Homo sapiens: one gene and its partner. The protein of the gene in region 1 interacts with the protein of each later gene in a pairwise test. Each region holds a gene or a part of one and is shown in the gene's direction. Other genes may lie near its edges.

The links.
Region 2: the proteins of SLC35G1 (region 1) and YIPF1 interact in binary tests that used the Homo sapiens proteins (3 or more experiments, as listed by UniProt).

The regions. Positions count from the first base shown.
Region 1 is NC_000010.11:93,886,982-93,900,606, forward strand, and holds the start of SLC35G1 (solute carrier family 35 member G1), read left to right. Parts: upstream 1-6,996; 5' UTR 6,997-7,052; coding exon 7,053-7,230; intron 7,231-11,589; coding exon 11,590-11,770; intron 11,771-13,625. UniProt on the Homo sapiens protein: May play a role in intracellular calcium sensing and homeostasis. May act as a negative regulator of plasma membrane calcium-transporting ATPases preventing calcium efflux from the cell.
Region 2 is NC_000001.11:53,851,798-53,858,797, reverse strand, and holds part of YIPF1 (protein YIPF1), read left to right. Parts: intron 1-3,746; exon of another isoform or gene 3,747-3,797; intron 3,798-6,527; 3' UTR 6,528-7,000.

The DNA.
Region 1 (13,625 bases):
GGTGACTACAGTCAGCAATAATTTGTTACACATTTTGGAATAACTGAGGGGGTATAATTGAAATGTTAGTAACACAAAGAAATGATGAATTCTTAAAGTGATGGATTTACCCTGATGGGGTTATTACACATTATGTGCCTGTAACAAAATACCTCATGTACTCCATCAATATATACACCTACTATGTACCCATAAAAATTAAAAATAAAAAAAGTTAAAAATATAAAATAAAATATAAATGACATAAGGTTGATCACCTTTAAAAAAAAAGTTGCCAGAAAAAACAGTGGGACAAAGATAATATTAACACTGATTTATCATCAGAGACAAGTCAGCCAGAAGAAAATAGAACAAGATTTTCAAGGTCTTGAAAGAAAAAAACTGTCAACCTATAACTGTATATCCAACACATATATTCCTCAAAACACAAAATAGAAATACATTTTTTAGACAAACAAAAACAGAGAATTTGTTGCCAGCAGATCTACTCTACAAGAAATATTTTAAAATTTCCTCAGGCTGAAAGAAAATGATATCACATGTATCACATAGAGACATAGTCCTAGACAAAGGAATGAAGAGTTTCAGAAGTGGTAAACATTTATGTATACGTAAAAGATTTTTCTCCTCATTTTTTAATCTCCTTAAGAGGTAATTGACTGTCCTAAACAAAATACTAACAATGCATATATTTAAAGAAACTTATAACCTATTTCCTCCTCTCTATCCTTTAAGTAAGCTATTGTTACAATTATCATACATTTTATCTAAATGTTTTACAAATATGAATACACACACACTATGGAGGCTGCAGGAAATATTGACCTTGGCAAACTAGAATTACCTAAAAGCATTCGTTGTTTTAGGGCAGTAATGGTTAAGAACTTGGGCTTGGGGCCAGTCACAGTGGCCAGTCACAGTGGCTCATGCCCAGCCCCTTTAGGAGGCTGAGGTGGAAGGGTTGCTTGAGGCCAGGAGTTTGAGACGGGCTTGGGCAATATAGTGAGACCTTGTCTCTACAAAAAATTGAAAAATTAGCCAGATATGGTGGCATGTGCCTGTAGTCCCAGCTAATATACAAATATACAAAGCAAATATACATGGCTTTGTATCTAAATGGAACCTCTTGAGTGCTTTCTATCCTTACTACCACTGAAGGTGAAATTGCTGCTGCTTTAGCGGACTAGAACTGGCTTCTCTTATTGGATTGTGGTAGCCAAGCACTGTGTGTGTGTGTACATATGTTTGTCTGTAGGATAAATAATACTTTGTAGTTTGGTATTGGAATTCTCTGCTTACTGACACTTGGCTTAAGCCTTCTTTCTCCCTGAGGTCTCATCTTAGTAGAAATTAATGTTTGCCCTTTTTGTTCGACAGAATCAGGAGTTGGAAGAACATCCAGTAATGGGTACACAGAAATGGAGCAGGGAGAAAGAAGGAGAAGACGGAGAATAACAGAGTGCCTGAGGCATGCAGACGATTCAGGAAGGGACTAACATTAGGTCTGAGTTATATGTAGGTATTCACGTTGCAAATTGCCTATGAACAGCCTCCATTCCCTGTGGGACCCAGCTGAGACCCATACTTTGGACAGCAGAATTGAGTTAGGAAGAGATCAGAGCTGTAGACACTGGAGTACGACTGCTGTCATAGCAGATTAGGACAGAGGTTGGATTCTGTTAATAGCATTATAAAAATTGTTTTTCTTATTTATTTCACAGCATTTTACTCTAGGAAAGTTAAGATGCTAGAGAGACACCATAAGCCTAGTGCACATCACACAGTTGTGTGGAAAGTCATCATGAGTATTGCCATCGCAATGGTCTCAGCGTTCAAAGGAGAACGTTGAGTGAAAGAAACTATGCTCTAATGAGGTCCTCTCAGAAACCAGCAATCCTGGCAATTCAGCTCTCTGGGCAAATAATAGAGCAGAGTCATCAGGACCACCCACCTAGGCGTCTGATGATCCTGGGTTTCAATCCTACCTGGGCCCTTCACTATCAGTTTGACTTTGGGCAACTGGTTTAACATCTCTGAGCCTCAATTTTCTCATCTATAAAATGAGGATGATAAAATGCATACTGTTTAAAAAAGAGTACTTACTGTCGGGTACTCTACAAGTATTATCTCATTTTATCCTCGCAACAGCTAGATACTATTATTATTCTATTTTATAGGTGTGAAAACAGAGGCTCAGAGCAATGGGCTGTCATGTGTCGGAAGTCACAAGGCTGGTTAAGTGGTACATCCAGGAATGGACCCTGGGCATTCTGATTCCAGAGCCCTGCTTTTAACTATTAAGCAAAACTGCTGGATAAAGCTCTCCTGAGTATCAAATAAGCTGATGAGCTCAATAGTGCCTGGCACATTTTGATTCTTTCATAAATGGTAATTATCAAAATGAGAGTTGAGTGCAATCCAGATCCCAAGTTATGACAAATCTGGGGTTAACGTGAATTCTGTAGCAACACCCAGGGCCAACTCTAAAGCTCAGGCATCCTCACTCTCAGATAATCTATAAACAGAAAGTTCTCATAGAAAAATACAAGTTCCCTGGGGTGTCAGAAATCGTTTATACAGAAGGTGCCTTTTGCAGCATGGGAACAGATCAGAGAGTAGGAAAGCAAGGAAGAACTGGAGAATGTCCTGGCCCCATCGTCAGAGCTCCCTTGAAAGGGAGCATCCTGACTTCCAGCCCAATCTGTCCAACAGGAGAGAACAGAAAGCTGGGAACTAAACGAGTGCCACACCCCTGGCTCATGGATTTTGCAGGATGCTAGGTAATGCTAGCATCATTTCTTCATTTCTCCATCATCTCCCTCCCCATCCCGATCACGTCCTCGGCCTTGTCTCTTTTGTTCCCAACTCCACCACTGCCAAGAACTGTACGTGGTCCAAAGTGGGCACTCAAACAACACTAGCTGAATGCATTACATGAAAAATGGTATGAAGATAAAGATAAACATATTAGGGATCAGAATGGAAAATTGTCATGCCTTTTTAAAGATGAAACACAGGACTTCAAAGAAACTTCAAAAATCTGGTAAGGGCTTTAAACTGTCTACAGAGATTAAAGTTCAAACTCTCAGAAATGTTTTCCCTGGCATTTTTAACCCCTTAAAAATTTTAATAAAATACACATAAAATTTACCATTTTAACCACTTTAAATATACAACTCAGTGGCATTAAGTGCATTCACATGGCTGAACAACCATCACCACCATCCATCCACCGAACTCTTTCACCATCCTAAACTGAAATGCCATACCCATTAAACACTAACTCCCATTCCCTCCACATCCCAGACCCGGGGAACCATCATTCTACTTTCTGTCTCATGAATTTGACTATGCTAGGCCCTGCTAATAAATAGAATCATACAATATTTGTCCTTTTATGTTCAGTTTATTTACTTAGCATAATGTCTTCAAGGTTCATCCATGTTGTAGCATGTCAGAATTTCATTTCTTAAGACTGAATAACATTCCACTGTATGCTTTATACCACACTTTGCTTATCTGTTCATTCATTGACAGACATTTGAGTTGTTTCCAGCTTTTGGCAGTTGTGAATAATACTAATATGAAAATGAATGTACAAATATCTGTTCAATTTCCTGCTTTCACTTCATCTGGGAATATATATCCAGAAGTAGAATTGGAGGATCATATAGTAACTATGTCTAATTTTTTGAGGAGCCATTCCTGGCATTTTTTTCTGTTATATTATCAGAGTCAGCTCCTACTTATTTGAACAGTTTATTTTGCCTCTCCAGTGTTCTATCCTACATTTATCCTAAATGACCTCTCTTTTGCTGGTCCCTTCTTTCATTTACAAAGATTATTTAGAAATATGATCTTATGTTCCACAGTACTGATTTTTCCCAAAACAAAACATTAGGGCTGTTTGGAACAAACTGCCATTTCCCAAGTCATAAGTTGCATTAGTTTAAAAGGTAAGAATCCATGAATTTTTTGGAAAAAAAAAAGCAGTCCTTCAAATCAGTACCAAGGTACCAGTTTGTTATGAAAGACAGTTTCTGACATACAAACGTCTCACTTAGGAACATCCCTGACATGCAAAGACCAGTGGAAACCAGGAATCTGACTCCTCCTGGAAGTCTCCACCTGCTGCCACATGGATGGTGAGGATCTTGGACTTTCAGTGGTTAGCAGGGACAGGTTAAAACCCACCTCTTCTCCATTTTCATCTTCCTTCTTGACACCAGAACTATGGGAGTGCCATCCTTGCTGTGGCTACCTGGCATCACAGTGAGAGCTCCTGTTCTCACTGGAAGATTGAATCACTTCAGAAGCAGAAGAGTGTGTGCTGGAACACAGCACAATTTTGCATACAGAAACAATGCTCTTTCACATCTAGTCAACGAGTTCTGCACATTCCATCTCCTAGCCACCTCAAAATCCATCTTTCCTCCTTGCCTTCTCTACCTGGGGTCAGAATCTCATCTGGGTCACTTCAATAGGCTCTGAACTAGTCTCCTCTACAGTCGGGATTTCTGGCCCATCCTGCACATTATGGAGATCTATCTGTCACCAGCTCAATATCACTATCATCACCAAAGACCTGAAATAACAATGTTCAGGAGAGACCTTAACAGCCCCACACCTCTACTGGGTGGAGCTTCAGGACAGCCATGTCTTCTGACTTCTAGTCTGGTCCGCACTTTTTTTTTTTTTTTTTTTTTTTTTTTGAGACAGTCTCGCTCATGTTGCCCAGGATATAGTGCAGCAGCGTGATCTCGGCTCACCGCAACCTCCGCCTCCTGGGTTCAAGTGATTCTCCTGCCTCAGCCTCCTGAGCAGCTGGGATTATAGGCACCCGCCATTACACCTGGCTAATTTTTGTATTTTTAGTAGAGACGGGGTCTCACCATGTTGGCCAGGCTGGTCTCGAACTCCTGACCTCAAGTGATCTGCCCTCCTCGGCCTCCCAAAGTGCTGGGATTACAGGCCAGCTTGGTCCGCACTTTTCTCATTGGTTGCCTTTTATGTCAGCATGGCTGTCAGCTAAATGGGAGAATGAATATAACTGATACCATTTATATATGAAGGTCAGCAGTGGAGGGGAAGGAAGTTAAAGGGAATAAACAGCAGGTATGAAATCATCTCACCACCTTTAATAACTGGTGTAGTACCCATTTTCTTCTCTTCTTCTTCTCCCTTTTCGAGGATGGTGTTGAAAGTGTTGAAAGTGGAGCAGTCAGGGTACTTCCTTCTCAAATCATCACACTTCTTTCTTCTTTACCACACTTCCTAGCCATAATCTTCACCATTTAAGAGGAGGGGACTCTTCAAACCCTTTCCATATCGAAATCTTAGAATGCAATTGTGAAACTGCACTTGACTTCCCAGATATTTGAGGAAGCTTCCTGGTTCTTGCTTTATAATCATGATCTACCACCCTTACCATCCTTCCCTGAAATTTCCCTATCTAAAACAACGACAACAAAACCTGTTACAGATATTTTTGTAAGTAGCCTTAAATTCTTTTAAAAGTATTATTATTTTTTTTATAGAGACAAGGTCTATGTTGCCCAGGCTGGTCTCAAACTCCTAAGCTCAAGCAATCCTCCCACCTCAGCCTCCCGAAGTGCTAGGATGGTAGGCTGAGCCACCGTGCCCAGCCTTAAATTCTCTTTTAAGACAAGGCAAAAGTATGTGTTAATCAAGTTAGAATTCAGGTGACCATTTGTCTCAGTTTGCCTAGGACAGTCCCAGTTTATGCCTATTCCCTTGTGTAACTTTTAAAAGAGCTCCTCCTTTTACTCTTAAAAAAAAAAAGGTCCAGTTTGGAGGATAAATTATATGCTGACCCTAGTTTAAAACACACTTTGATTTTCTAACATAGTGTTTTCCAGGTGATATTATGCTTTTGCCCACATCATTGCATTTTATTTACATAACTACTCTGCGAAGCAGGAAGGGAAATACTTGATCGCTATTAAATAAAGGAGGTAATCAAGGCTTCGAGGGGTACAGTGGTGACTGAGGTCACACACTCAGGGCCAGAACCTAGGATTCCTGACTTCAAGTCTAAAACTGTTTCAGCTGTGGATCACTATGTGCAAATGTCTGAGTAAAGGCAAACTTCACTCTCCTTTGGTGATCTGCTTGGCACTGGACTTAGAAGTTTAGATACGTTCATCCTTGCACAGAGACTGTTCTTCCACATATAAAGCAAGCAAAGAGATGGAAGAAGAATTATTAGCTAAACAAAAAGAGGCTGTTAGTGAATCCTGGGCCAAAGAATATATTTTACCAGGTCTAATTACATCAGATTACTTGAATCTTACATCTGGCCAAATTAGGATATTTCCATTTAAGAAAAGAAAACCAAAGATCAATAATGCATGCCTACTCTTGCAAAGAATGCAAAGAACATATAAATGGGTTCTGGTCAGTCTTATAGATATATTTTCCTATAATTACACACTAATTCTTTCTTAAAAATATTTCCCAAAACAGCAAAATTCTACCCTCCTTGGTAAGCAGCAAAGGGACAACACGGGAAACAAAACAAAACAAAACAAAACAAAACAAAACATAAAAACCCTAGACCATTTAAAGACAAGCATGGTGCTTTGTAAAATCTTCGGGGTATCACAGAGGTGCTGAATGCGTGGTTACATCAATGAAAAAACGCCCACTCTTTGAGCCTCCTGAAAAGGAGGCCACAGGACCCCCGGGCGCCAGGGCTTGGGAACCCAGCGCCCCTCCTTGTCTGTGCCATGACAGACAGGTTCAGTGTGACTTGCCAAGGATGGCTCCAAGCAGCTGGGCCATGTAGCCTGAACGCAGCAGAGGGTTGGACGCCTTAGAGCCAGCTGTGGGCACCACAGCCCGACCAGGGAGGCAGCGGGTCTCCCCAGGTTAAGAGGCCAGCGGAGGACGCGCGCGGTCTCCTTGGGGGAGGGTGCGGGTGGGCCGGGCGCGCATGCGCATGGGCGCCATCGCCCGCCGGAAGAGCGGCAGCCCAGGCGCTGCTGCTGGCGCCAGACGGCACCGGCCGCTGGTAGAGCGCGTGCCGCGAGATGCGGCCTCAGGACAGCACCGGGGTCGCGGAGCTCCAGGAGCCCGGGCTGCCGCTAACGGACGATGCACCCCCGGGCGCCACTGAGGAGCCGGCGGCCGCCGAGGCAGCTGGGGCGCCAGACCGCGGTAGGTGCTGGCTCTGCCTTTCCTCGCCGTGTTGCTCCCGCACCGAGCCGGGTGAGTGCGCGGTGTGGATCGGGCTCTGGTCTCGCTCGGGGGTCCCGAGCGGGCGCCGGCGGGTTGGGGTCCCCGCAACCCGGGCACAGTGCCCGCCGCGCCTCCGTCCCCACCCTGCCCGGGGCTCGGGAAACCCCTCGAGCTGTCAGCTGGGGGGCTGCAAAGCGGAATTCCCGGCGCCCCAGCCGGCGCTAAGACGGAAGAAACTTTCCGATTGTTAGCAGTCCTTTTGGGATTCCGAGGCTGCTCCTGTAATTAGTGTCGGGGCAGGGCTGTGGAGTCAGACTGCAGTTTGGCGTACCCTCCCCTAGGTCGTAGGTGGGGGGTCAGCGAGAGAGGCCATCCTGCAGTGGGGCGACGTTGCGAGGAAGCTGACCCTGAAAAGTGATCCCGGTGGTTAAGGGTTCTCTCCGAAAAGGAAGCTGAAAAGCATCGAGTCTAGAAAAAATGTTCGTCCTAGAGTTTTAGAATCTTGGAAAGGCAGAGATAAGTGGGACCGCTAGTTTTTAACCTTTAGGGATACAAGGACTTTTTAGCAAACGATGCAGAACAAGGCATATCTTGTTAAGAAGCTCACAGCCCCGTCCCCAAAGTCAGGGACCCCTCGTGAAGAACACTTTATGTTCAGTCCCCCTCCTTCGACACATGAGCAAAGTGAGGCCCAGGAAGGTGAGGGCTTTTGGGTTTTCGTTTGCTTTGTCTCCTCCAAGATGTGGAACGTGGGGGTGAGATGGGGCGCATGTCCAGGGAGCACCAGGGTTAGGATCCCAGCTTGCCATATACCGGCCTAGGGCCCTTTCCACTGGCCACAAGTGCTGCTTCAAGCACATTCCTCTTAGAAGTCGACCATCTACCAGGAGCAGCTTCCTGCAAGAAGAAGGGAATAGGCAGATCTCTTTTTAGGACAGTTACACGGCCTGCACCACCTTGTCCTCTGGGTCACCTCCCCTAAGTGTGACCCTGGATTTCTGTTCCTCTCCTCTCACTGCGCTTTCCCCTCCTCCCTTTGTGCACTTTCCCCAAGTTAGAGAGACAGACTCTAGGAAGACTATTCTTGCTCCATTTCTGTCCTAAAGGCAAACCGAAATGATCAGACTTGTGATCATTTATAAATGGGCTGGTGCCTCTAGAACAGGGGTTATGCCAGGCTGAATTGAACAGATAAGCAGCCTTTGAAAAGGTCAGTTTCTCACCTATCACCCTCTGGGTGAATGTCCTTCTGGTGGCATGCCGAATCAGTCCATGCAAACTCTTAAAGTTTCCCCTTTTTGTGAATGGAAGAGGAATTCTCTACTCCCAGGCAGCTCATGGCAAGATGAGAAACTTACGTGAGTGTATCTAAGAATCTTGTGGGTGTTTAACTTCAAAGAAAGTTTCTACCAGTAAGACTTAGTTATTGTAAGGTGACAAGATAATATTTTGGAAAGAAAATTGACATAAAAACACTTTACTGTTGTCATTGAACTTTGTGACACCTCTTGTTCTAACTGCTTATCTCAACAAAGCTTTTTTCAAGTTCTGGTTGGAACTGTTACCCATATGTCTTACATTCTTGGATGACCTTAACAGACACATACAGCTGTCCCAAGACATCTCCTTACTTTCTTCAGGGACAGTGTGGGTCTTACACTGAAGCAAGGAGAAGTAGTTTCTTAGGCCTGTGCCTCACATCCTCTGGAGGGAGTTAGTGATCGAGTGTAGCAGTGGTTCTCAAACTAGTGGAGCCTTTTAGAGTTACAGAGATTCTATTTCGGTGGGTCTGAGATGGGGCTTGAGAATTAATTTTTTTTTTTTTTGGAGATAGGGTCTTACTCTGTCACCAAGGCTGTGGTGCATTGGCGTGATCACAGCTCACGGCGACCTCAACCTCCTGGGCTTACTCGATCCTTTCATCTAAGTCTCCTGAGTAGCTGGGACCACAGGCACACACCACCACACCCGACTAATTTAAAAATATTTTTTGCATTGATGAGGGGGTTTCCCCGTGTTGCCCAGGGTGGTCTCAAACTTTTGAGCTCAAGAGATCCTCCCACCTTGTCCTCCCAAGGTGCTGGGATTACAGGCATGAGCCACTGCACCCAGGAATTAAAGTTTTAAGTGTTACTCAGGTGATTCTAATTCCCAACCAGGATTGCGAATCACCAGCTGAAAGCAGAGGATAGAGAAGCTGAGTAATTTTTCAGTTTTCTTCTAAGTGAGGAAATTACACCATGGCCACTTACCTAATTTGAATAATTTGAGTTACCAAATTATTAGATATGCTTGCAGTGAGATATGAACATGGAACCTAAACAAATGCCTCTTTCAGTTATGCTAGTCATGCTCATCTCCATTGACAGGATTGAAATGATTTAGTAAGAAACTGAGGTTTGTCTGAGTGGAGCCAGTCCTCACCCTCGTTAACAAATCATCAAATGCAGCGAGGCCTTCTAATGTCTGTCCCTTCCCAGTTGGAAAGCATGAGCCTTAAGTGTTTATAGGCAAGAAAATACATGTGTATGTGTTTTAAGGGGAAAGGTCACTAGGGCCAAGGGGGTGCAATTACATTTTTAAAGAGTTAAAATATTTAATGTTAAGTTAAAATATTCCTGGGGAAAAATTAGCAAGTTTATGTTGGAGAAGATACTTGAAACAGAGCAGGGAGATGTTTTCTGTCCTTGATCTTCTCGGTCTGTTCTGTTTGAGGGTGGAGTTTCTATGTAGGGGTTGAGTTTCTTTTAAGAAAAACTGTTTTATTTGGAACTGAATTCTGAAATTTCAGAGGCCAGACCCTAAGGCTGACCACAGCCAAGGCATGTATTTTGTGGTGCTTCACTTGGAAGTCTTCTAAAGCTTCCTTCTCGTGGGCTGCGTGTGTGCAGTTTATTTCTGCAGTATACAAGCACATGGATACAGAACAGAATGAGGATTCTGGCATCTTAAGGGAAGGACTACTGCTAGTTCCAAAGCAGTATCTTCAGCTGTGCACCTAGAACAGGAAGAGGTAGAGAAGGGTGCCTTTGACCACAAGGCCAGGCTGTAGAATGCCCCAGAAAGCCTGTGCATCAGCATACTTTGGTCCCAGTTTGCAAAGTCATCTCACTAACCTGAGGATGTGTAAATGTGTTACCTGGTGTTTACATTTATCAGAGAAGGGCATTTTAAAAAACATTACACAATACTGTTTTATAGCTATCACATTATAAAGTCCTAGATTGGAATGATAATACGAGTTTTCCTACAAGTTGCTCATATCCACTCACCCTTCAGTTCCACTGTGCTCTTAATCAATGAGGGCCACTTGTGTTTCCTTCTTACCCTCAACCCTGTTTTTGTGTTAATTTCAAAAAAGAATATATCCCGCAGTGTGTGACCTTTGTTTTAGGGCATTCTCTGCCCACCCTGCTGCTTTTGCTCTCTGAATGACAGAGGAGTAAGACTGAAAGCAGGTTCTACTCCTGTGTAGGAAACTAAGACATAGTAAGTGGCTAAACAAGTTTAAAGCTCACACAGATTGTCATTAATGACTGAATACTTGATGCCCTGGAGAAAGCACTGGTTTCCTCGTTCAGATCGAGCCAAGAGTAGGGATTAGATGGCAGTTCTGTACAAAGCACTTGGGATCCAAAGGGCTAGATAACCCACACCCTCCCCTTGAGGAGTTTGTGCTCTGAATGGGAAGATAAGTCGTGAAAGCATGAAAAGTTAAATATAGATTTGATTAACAGTTCAAAATAACAAAATGGAGAACCTTCCCAGATTATGCTGTTGCCGATAGTGTTAGACTCTTGAGTCTTTCCCTGAAGTTCTCTCATCTTTCATTCACTGAATATTTATCCAGTGTCTTCCATGTGCCAGGCATGTACAAGACAGCAAGATCCCAGCCCTGGAAGAGCTCACAGACTTGTGGGAGGAAGTCAAATAATCAACAGATAACTGTATAACCCAATTATAACCCATTTTCCAGAAAAGAACACTTTCTTCATAAAGCCAATTTCGCCAGTGAGGTGTGGCGTAAGATATCACTTGGAAGGATTTTTTACTTGCCATCTTGACAAGTGTTTCTTAAAGATTTCTCTCACCATCTTGGCAAGCGTTCTACTTCTTGACTTGTAAGTGAGGATGATTCTTCAGTGAGCCATAGGAAATCCATTTGATAGGGCGAAACGGCATTTTAAAAATGCAGGTTTAAATTGTTATCCTCATCTATGGTTCTTCATAATTGATGGGGAAAATGGTACAGGCCCAGAGAAATGATATGCTTAGGAGGTAATAAAGCCTGTTGACCTTTGACACTGTTCCATTTTTCTCAGTTTCTAAGTGAAAATGATAACACATACACTTGGAAGCAAGGACTAACCAGAATTTAATCTTTTTCAGAAGCCAAGAAGAAAGCACCCTGTCCTGGACTTGGCTTGTTTTACACATTATTGTCTGCCTTCCTTTTCTCAGTGGGCTCTTTATTTGTTAAAAAAGTGCAAGACGTCCATGCTGTAGAGATTAGTGCGTTTCGATGTGTGTTCCAAATGCTAGTTGTTATCCCTTGCTTAATATACAGAAAGTAAGTATTTTTTAACTGCAAAGTAGAAGATATTAATAAATGTGTGTATATCTTTTCACCTGCCTATAATTACTCTATCTGCTTTATCCATCTCATATACTTACCAGTTCCTATGCCCCTTGGCTCTGCTTAATGAAAAGTCATAAGCATCTACCCACAGAAGATTCTACCATGAGCATAAACCACATACCCAACAAAGTGGGGAGAAAGAAATTTTGTTTTTCACCACCTCCCCTTTTGAAAACAGAGCTTTCTTTGTATAATTCCTCTTGTCTTGTATCACCCTCCCTTCTTTCCTTTGGCATAACTACTGTTTGGAAGTTAAAAAAATGAATGAAAAGAAGTAATAGTGTATCCTAGTATCAGAAGTTTTTTTAGAATGGGCTGCTTTCTTACCAGGGCAAATAGAAGATTATAGTAATAATATTTAGGTATTCCTCAAAAGGTGATGGGGTAACCCTGAGCAAGGTTACTTTCGTATTTAGTTTCCTCTTTTGTAAACTAGAGGGAATGATACTGTGTGACTTCTGCCCTACAAGGTGATTCCAAGGGTCAAATAAGATTTATTATAGGGTGGAGTGCCTTGTGTAGAGTGTAACAGTATATGAAAATTGTCTCTATTCCGCCCTCTCTGTTCTCTCCCAACCCAATTCCTCTTTTCCTTCCCTGTTGAACTCCCTACCCTCCCTGGGTTAAAATTATGCCTCCTTCAACCATTGTAACCTCCATATACCTCAGTGTATTTAGAACCCTGAGAGCGAGACCAGTTGGGTCCTTGGTGGCTGCCTGGCTCTTTGTCTCTTTGGGCAAAAAAGGCTACACCCCAAATGAAAAGCTTTAGTCACTTGTCACCAAAGTCTCCTTGTATCTCTAACATGGTGCGGATTCACTTAGAATAGTTTCACTCCATATCCTGATGATTTGGTGGGAAAAGTGAAAACCTGCTAATACCTGCAAATTTCTGTCAATGCGGACAAGTCACACTATTTTAAGAAATGATGGTAGGGCTTTAGAAATTTCTAAGGGTAGCAGCAGAACACCGATGCTAACATAATCATCTCCCCCATTTTGAAATAAAGATATTGTCAGGGGAAGGACACTGGAAGAATGTTGTTAAAATCCTTGGTCCTCATCTGTTTTGACCCATTTTATGTTTTATTATCATGGAAGACTCTTTGCTTCTCAAAGTATGGGCCAAATGTGACCGTGCTTTCATTTTAACTCCAAGATACCCGGGGTAGCCTAGATGATAATCTAATGAAGTCTAGCCCTGGCACACGTCAGCAAGTTGCACCTAGCCAGGAACCTACACAGAGTGGGTACTTAGTAAATATTTATTGAAAAAGAATTTGAATAGCAGTAATCATACTTTTCCAAACACTACATGTTCTTTTTCAGTGTGTTTTGACTCTTTCCTCATGAGAACAATGAAAACTTGTCTCATATTCAATGACTAAAATAAATTTTAGCAGTTTCAAGTTTTATAGAAAAATTCATGAGATTGAGAATGAGCATTAGCTGGGTCTAAGTTTCCTTACACAGGGCAGCTGAATCTTGACATTGTATTTATCATAAAAGTGATATGTTTATAGAAAATTTGGAGAAAATAAATATAAAGAAAGAAAATTACCTATGAGTTTATCTATTAAGATATAAACATGATTAACATTTAGTTTATTTTCCTTTTTGTCCTTTTTGCAAGCATATATATACATATACGTGGGATAAATATCTATATTAATTGAATTATAATTTTACTATGCATGTAATTCACTTGCACTGGTTTTGCTTTTACTGTGAACACTTTACTGTCATTAACTATACTTAGAAAATACTATTTTTAAAAAGTATATAA
Region 2 (7,000 bases), on another chromosome or scaffold:
CTTGGCATGGTGGCATGCTCCTGTAGTCCCAACTAGTTGGGAGGCTGGGGTTGGAGGATCACTTGAGCCTGGGAGATGGAGGTTAAAGTGAGCTGTGATTGTGCCACTGCATTCTAGCCTGGATGATAGAGAGAGAACCTGTCTCTAATAATAATAATGATAAATCCCAGCCCTACCATGTACTAGCAATGTGCCTTGGGTAAGGGGCTTACTCTCTTTGAGCTTCAGCTAACTTGTCTTTACAATAAGAATGACACAAACTATATAAGATTGTAGTGAAGGTTGGAGATTATTTTTATAAAAGCTCCTGGCACATAGTTAAGGTGCTCAGCAATAAAATCAAAGCTACTGCCACTCTCAGAGTGCGTCAGTAGTTTATGTTTGGTGGCTCCCACTGACTTTACCTTGATCATTTTTTCCTTTTTGTAAAACAAATGGGGATTTTCCCTCTTAGTTGAGGAATCCAGGTTGTAGGCCCTGTAGGTTGACTAGATATGACTGGTCAAATGCTTTCCAGTTCCTTAATGGTAAGACAGTCACCCTGGCCAGTAGAATGACTGGGAACTATTGTAAAATGTCATAGTCTACCACTTTCGCCTCTTCCTCTCTTCTCATGGGTATGCGATGTTAGAATCAAAGAAGATCAGAGCCCTTGGAGACATTAAATAGCATGGGCTTCCCTCCTCATTTTACAATAAGGAAGCTGAGACCGAGAGAGGACAGTGCCTTACCCAAGGCCACCCCAGAGTTCTGGGGCAAACTAACATGTGTCTATCACATTCCATTTGACAAAACACTTTTTTTTTTTTTTTTTTTTGAGGTGGAGTCTCACTCTGTCGCCCAGGCTGGAGTGCAGTGGCGCAATCTTGGCCCACTGCAACCTCTGCCTCCCGGGTTCAAGAGATTCTCCTGCCTCAGCCTCCCAAGTAGCTGAGATTACAGGTGCCCGTCACCACACCTGGCTAATGTTTTGTATTTTTAATAGAGATAGGGTTTCACTATGTTGGCCAGGCTGGTCTCGAACTCCTGACCTTGTGAGCCACCCACCTTGGCCTCCCACAGTGCTGGGATTATAGGTGTGAGCCATCGCGCCCGGCCTGACAAAACATTTCCTAGTTTATTCTCTCATTGGCCACTCTTACTGGCCCTCTTGACCACATTGTATGTATAGATGAGAAGGCTGGGCTGAGTAAATCTGGGCTGACTAAGATCACCTACCTCTTAGAGGCAGAGCTGGGACTCATATCTAAGTCTTGGGAAGCCAATTTTTGAGGTTTTTCACTTTCCCATTTTTTAGACAAATGTTCTTTTTACCACTAAAACGTGCAGGTTCTCACTGCTAGCCTTTGGCTGTTTGATGGAGCCTTCCTCTGCGGGTCTAGAGGTGTTTAGTAGCAGTCTCCACACTCCTTTGATTGCATGTCTTATCAGCTGAGAGTTTGCGTGCTGTATTAATTATCTATTGCTGCCCAGTGGTATTACCACAATACACATTCTCACAGTTTCTGTGGGGCAGGACTGTGGGGATAGCTTAGCTTGCTCCTCTACTTCAGATTCTCTCTCAAGGCTGCAGTCAAAACATTGGCCAGGGCTGGTGTCTCACCTGAAGTCTAGACTGGGAAAAGATCTGCCTCCCAACTCACAAGGTTGTTGGCAGGATTCAATTCCTGTGGCTTCGTAGAATGAGGGCCTTCTTGCTGACGGTCATTTGGAGACCACCCTCAGTTGCTTGCCACGTGGGCCTCTCTGTATGATCACTCACTTCATCAAAGCCATAAAGGGAGAGAGAGGCAATCGAGTCTGATAGTGAGATGGAAGTTGCTGTCCTATATAATGTAAACATAGGAGAGATGGTCATCACCTTTACCATCTTCTATTGACTAGAAGCAAGTCACAGGTCTTGCCTACCTTCTAGGGGAGGCAATTACACAAGGGCATGAATGCCTGGAGACAGGCAGGGATCACTGGAGGCCATTTTAGATTCTCAGTCACAAGCACAAACTTGTGATACGTATATATTTGAAGTATTTGCATATACTGTTGTCAATCCATATAGGAACTATTAAAGCTTTAAATGCCATAGCCAAGTTGTCAGTTTAGCATTATGGGGCCAAGAAGGGAGGGACTCAGTTGGAGTTGGCCTGGAGGGAAGCTTCAGAGAGGGGCTCTTGTTTGAACTGGGTCATAAAGGTTGAGCACAGTCAGTTAGCTGTTCTGGAAAAAGTAGTCTGCTTCCCATGGCTTTTGGGAAGATGAAGACCTAGGCTGTACAGGGGAACCATGATAAGACGATGTGGACTCACATCACTGAGAACGAGACAATTCGAGCCCAGCTGGAGAGGGACAGAGGTAGAGAACACAATGGCAACAGTTTCCTGGGTCTCTCTTTTGGCCCAAAGTACCTGACATCGCCATGTTGAGGGTCTCTCTCAACCTGCCCCTGAGCTAGGACTTAAGTTATTTCATTTCATTTTGGTTGTAAAGGCCTTCAGAGAGTCAGAGCAGCATCTGAGAAGAGCCTGCCCCTCAGGGCCCTTGAAGACTTAGCAGACTGGTGTACACAGATTTGACGCCTCTGCGCTTTGCTCAGATCTATGAACTTGGCTGTTAGAGCCTCCATTTGGGTGTCAAGTCTCCAAATGAGGTAGTGATGAACAGCTTCTTTGCAGCCTCCCTGGCAGAAGCATCAATTGCTTTGCTGATAGAGAGGCTGTCCAGAGCCCTGAATGCTGCTGATTTACGAGCTGGCTGTGCCTTCTACTGTCATCTCTGGACTCCCAGCTTTCACTGAAAAATAAAGGCTTCTAATCTCACCAGTAACCTACCTTCCCCATGTAAATCTGTGTATTGGAAAACTTAGCCTAGAGCGCATTCCCAGGAGAGCATTGGAAGGCTTAGCTTAGAACACATTCCAGGGAGAACCCCTTCTCTCCCTGGAACCTCAGGATCATAGGGGAGCTTCCAGTTACAGTCATGCATTGCTTAATGATGGGATGCATTCTGAGACATGCGTCATTAGGCAGTTTCATCATTGTGCCAATATCATAGAATATACTTAAACAAACCTAGATGGTATAGCTTACAACACACTTATGTGGGATAGCCTATTGCTCCTAGGCTACAAACCTGTGTGGCATGTTGCTATACTGAATACAGCAGGCAGATGTAACCCAATCGTAAATATTTGTGTACCTAAACATAGAAAAGGTACAGTAAAAATATGGTGTGATCTCATGGGACCACCATTGTATACGTGGTCTGTTGTCAACTGAAACATCATTATGCAGTGTGGGACTGTACTTGTAATCAGCATGCTACCCCTATGTAAGTTATTGAAATAATATAAAGAATATCTGGCTTCCATCCTTCCTTCTTCATTAACTTTTCACATGAGGGCAGTGCTATGTCTTCTCTGAGCCAAGACCCTGGTAGAGCCTGGAAACTGTACCTGGGAAGCCCTGCTTTGGCTTGAGGGCTTGAGACCGCATCCAGATTGGGGTGAGCTTTCCAGGGGCAGTGACAGGTGGGGCTGTCCGGAGGAGGGCCATCAGCAGATAATCATATCGCAGTGTGATCAGGGCTTTAATTAATGATGCAGAGAGGGCTTCTGGAGAGTCCTTTGTCATTAAATCCTCCTGATTGGATACACAGGGTTTGTATGCAGTTATCCTGTCACTCGCTCACATTGTCAAGAGTGTTCATTTCACAAGCCTTGTCTACTTGGCAATTTCCTGTTTATTTTTCAGGACTCACTTGAGATACCCTCTCCTTGCTGAAGTTTTTCTTGACTTCTCCAGGTAGTATTACTTATTTTCTTTTCTGTGCTCTTCTACAGCTCTCGTATGTTCTTCTATTATGGCAGTTTGCTTATTCACTGTAACTTCATAGACTGAGAGTTCCTTGAGGGCAGAGCTTTATTTACCAATATAGCTCCCTAGCACCCAGCAGACACTTGGAGAAAGCTTCATTTGAACAAGTTGTTAGGCCAATCATATAGCATCAAAACTTTCCTGGATTTATGTGGCAGGTTACTTGGGAAATCTTTACTTGTTCATTCATTGAAGTTCTACTCTGTGCTGGTGAACAACGGAGATCAGTCCTTACCCTCCCAGATTCTATACTCCAGTTTTACATCTCATACGCCACACAGACTAGAAGGCCCTTTTACATTAAAGAGAGAAACATGATTATGGGAACTTCTCATTGGAACATCCCAGATCAGACTGTGGTGACATTGGAAGGTTTGGCTGCAGGGCTGAGGCAAGGAAAGGGACAGAGAATGCCCATGCGATAGTGCAGCCACCCAAGATGGGGAGCCAAAAATGGTCAGGAGTCAGGTCATAGGCCAAGAGGTGGTAGAGGCAATCTTCAAGAGGTAAGGAAGTGCTGGCTGATGGTGACATTAGGGACCAACTTTGGCACAAAGGGCAACAGCATCTTACTTTTCTCCCTCTGGCCTAAGTGCCAAGAATTCCCAACCTCTTCGCTTCTGGCCACCCATTAAAAGTTGGCAGCAGGAGAAGGAATTTTTTTTTTTCTTTTTTTTCAGACAGAGTCTCACTCTGTTGCCCAAGCTGGAGGACAGTGGTGCAATCTCGGCTCATTGCAACCTCCACCTCCCGGGTTCAAGTGATTCTCATACCTCAGCCTCCCGAGTAGCTGGGATTACAGGAATGCATCATCATGCCTGGCTAATTTTTCTGTATTTTTGGTAGAGATGGGGTTTTGCCATGTTGGCCAGGCTGGCCTCTAACTCCTGGCCTCAAGTGATCTGCCCACCTCAGCCTCCCAAAGTGCTGGGATTACAGGCATGAGTCACCATGCCTACCTGAGAAGGGAATTTTCTAGTCTTCATATTCTTCCCTAGTCTTGACATTGATTTGGAACAGACAGCTAGAAAGAGGAGAGAAAAACAGAGTATATATTTATGAATATAAAATCTTGAGTGCTTGCTCTGTGGGCCCGTTTGTCCCTACCTTTATTTAGCGTTTCAGAACCCAAGTTGATGGTTACTAAAAGGCTGATCAGGGCTTTAGGTTCTTTCATGCCAGCAAATTACAGCATCTGGCTTTCTCCAGCCACTTTTCACAGATATTTTGTTGGCAATGTTTCTCTTTTCTTGAGCCAGTAGACTTGGGCAGTTAGCCCTTGCCTTAGCCTCACCTTCGTGGTATCATCAAACGCTGACATCTGAATGTGGTATTGTCCTGTTGATGTCTCCAGGAAGGCCTAGCTCATTCTCCCAAGTGGAAGGCTATGCATTAGGAACTTATTCTCCACCATATTCCTTAGTCTTCCCTGGATTTAACTCTATCTCCAGCCCCTCTTTCCAAGTTTCCCTGTCTTGCAAATCCCCAGGTAGGTATACCAACAGTTGCCTCAAATTCATTACATTCCAAGCTATACTCATCCCCCACTACAACCAGATCCTCCTCATGTTTTCCTGTCTCAGGGAATGGCACCATCATTTATACTGTCCCTGACTGCAGAGTAGGTTAGATTCTTTATTACACCCTCGCCTGGCAAGTTAAGATTATAATTAAATAAATAATATTTTCTGTATTTGTTTGCCCTGTTGCTTCTCTTGGTAGACTGGTTCCTTGACAGTTGGGACCATGTCTGTCTTGTTCATCACTGTCCCCAGTACCTGGCACATGGGTCCTCAATATTTGTTGGATTAATTAAGAAATCCATCCAGTCACCCAAGATAGAAACCTCAGCATCAAGGTAGATTGTAGATTCCCCCCACTCACCTTCCACATAGTATCAGTCAGCAAGACCTGTCTTTTCTATCTCTGAAGTATTTTTCATCTCTGTCCTGTTGTTACCATACCCAGTGTTCAGGACCGATCATTTCATATTTGAACTGCAGCAGTAACATGATGGCTTTCTCCACTTCTTTTCTTTTTCTCCTTCCAATTCATCCTATACACAGCCACAGGGGTCTTTGAAAATTTATAATTCTGACCACGCCTTTAACTATGTCACTTCCCTACTTAGAAACTTTTTTTTTTTGGCCCCCTATTGCCCAAATAACAAAATTGAAACCCCCTGCATTGCCACAATCTATCCCTGATTTATTTGTCCTGCCTCATATCCTGCCATTATCTCCTGTATAACCTTACATTTCAATTACCACGGTTTTCCAGGTCCCAGATCTTTAAGTCCCTCCATATCCACTCTTATCTTTTCTCCTCTAGTGCTTAACACAGTGCTGTCACGGAGAAGAGAAAGAGAGAAGGATGGGCAAAGGTAGCTTTAGGATCTGGCTTGGAAAGGGTCACTGGGTTTCCAAGCAAATAGAAGAAAACTTTTTAAAGCATCATCTTTCTTCCAACACTAAGCTCTACTTTTAGCATCAAAATTAGACTCAAGCCTCAAGATTTAGGGAATTGGTGGCAGCAGACTGCTCCGGTGTTGGGAGTTATATCTCTAAACATACATGAATATCCTTTTCTACAATGTAGCTCTTTCCTGTCGGGGTGGGGGGGTGCTTTATCTTGAAAGTTTCCCGTTTTGTTTTTCAGTTCTCTTTTGTTTTTTGGAGCATGGTTCTTTGGGAAGTGGCATCCACTGCAGGAAAGCAGAATGAGCAGAGCCAGCAGAACTGATGGAGTGGCACAAATTCCCAGTGTCTGGATGGTGCCACACTGGCGCCTAATCACCCGTTTAACAAGCAGAAATTAAATGTTGCTCAGCACATGTGTCTTTCAGCTCTTCCTTTTCACCCATGGATGATCATTGCGAGCATGCGCTGATTGGACTGAAATGCCAGGGAATAGGTTAGGCATGCTCAGTGCCGTCCCTTTGCCACCACAGTCAAATGACATGCTTCACTGTGGTACCTTAATACCTGAAATAGAACCATGGAAAATTCTGATGTCCTCTCTCTGAATTATGTACAGACTACCTGGGGGATCCTCTTCTCTCCAAATGTTAGCCATCCTGAAGTAGCCGAACAGTAGAAACTTTGGTGGGGATTAACCGGGAGCTTGAAAAT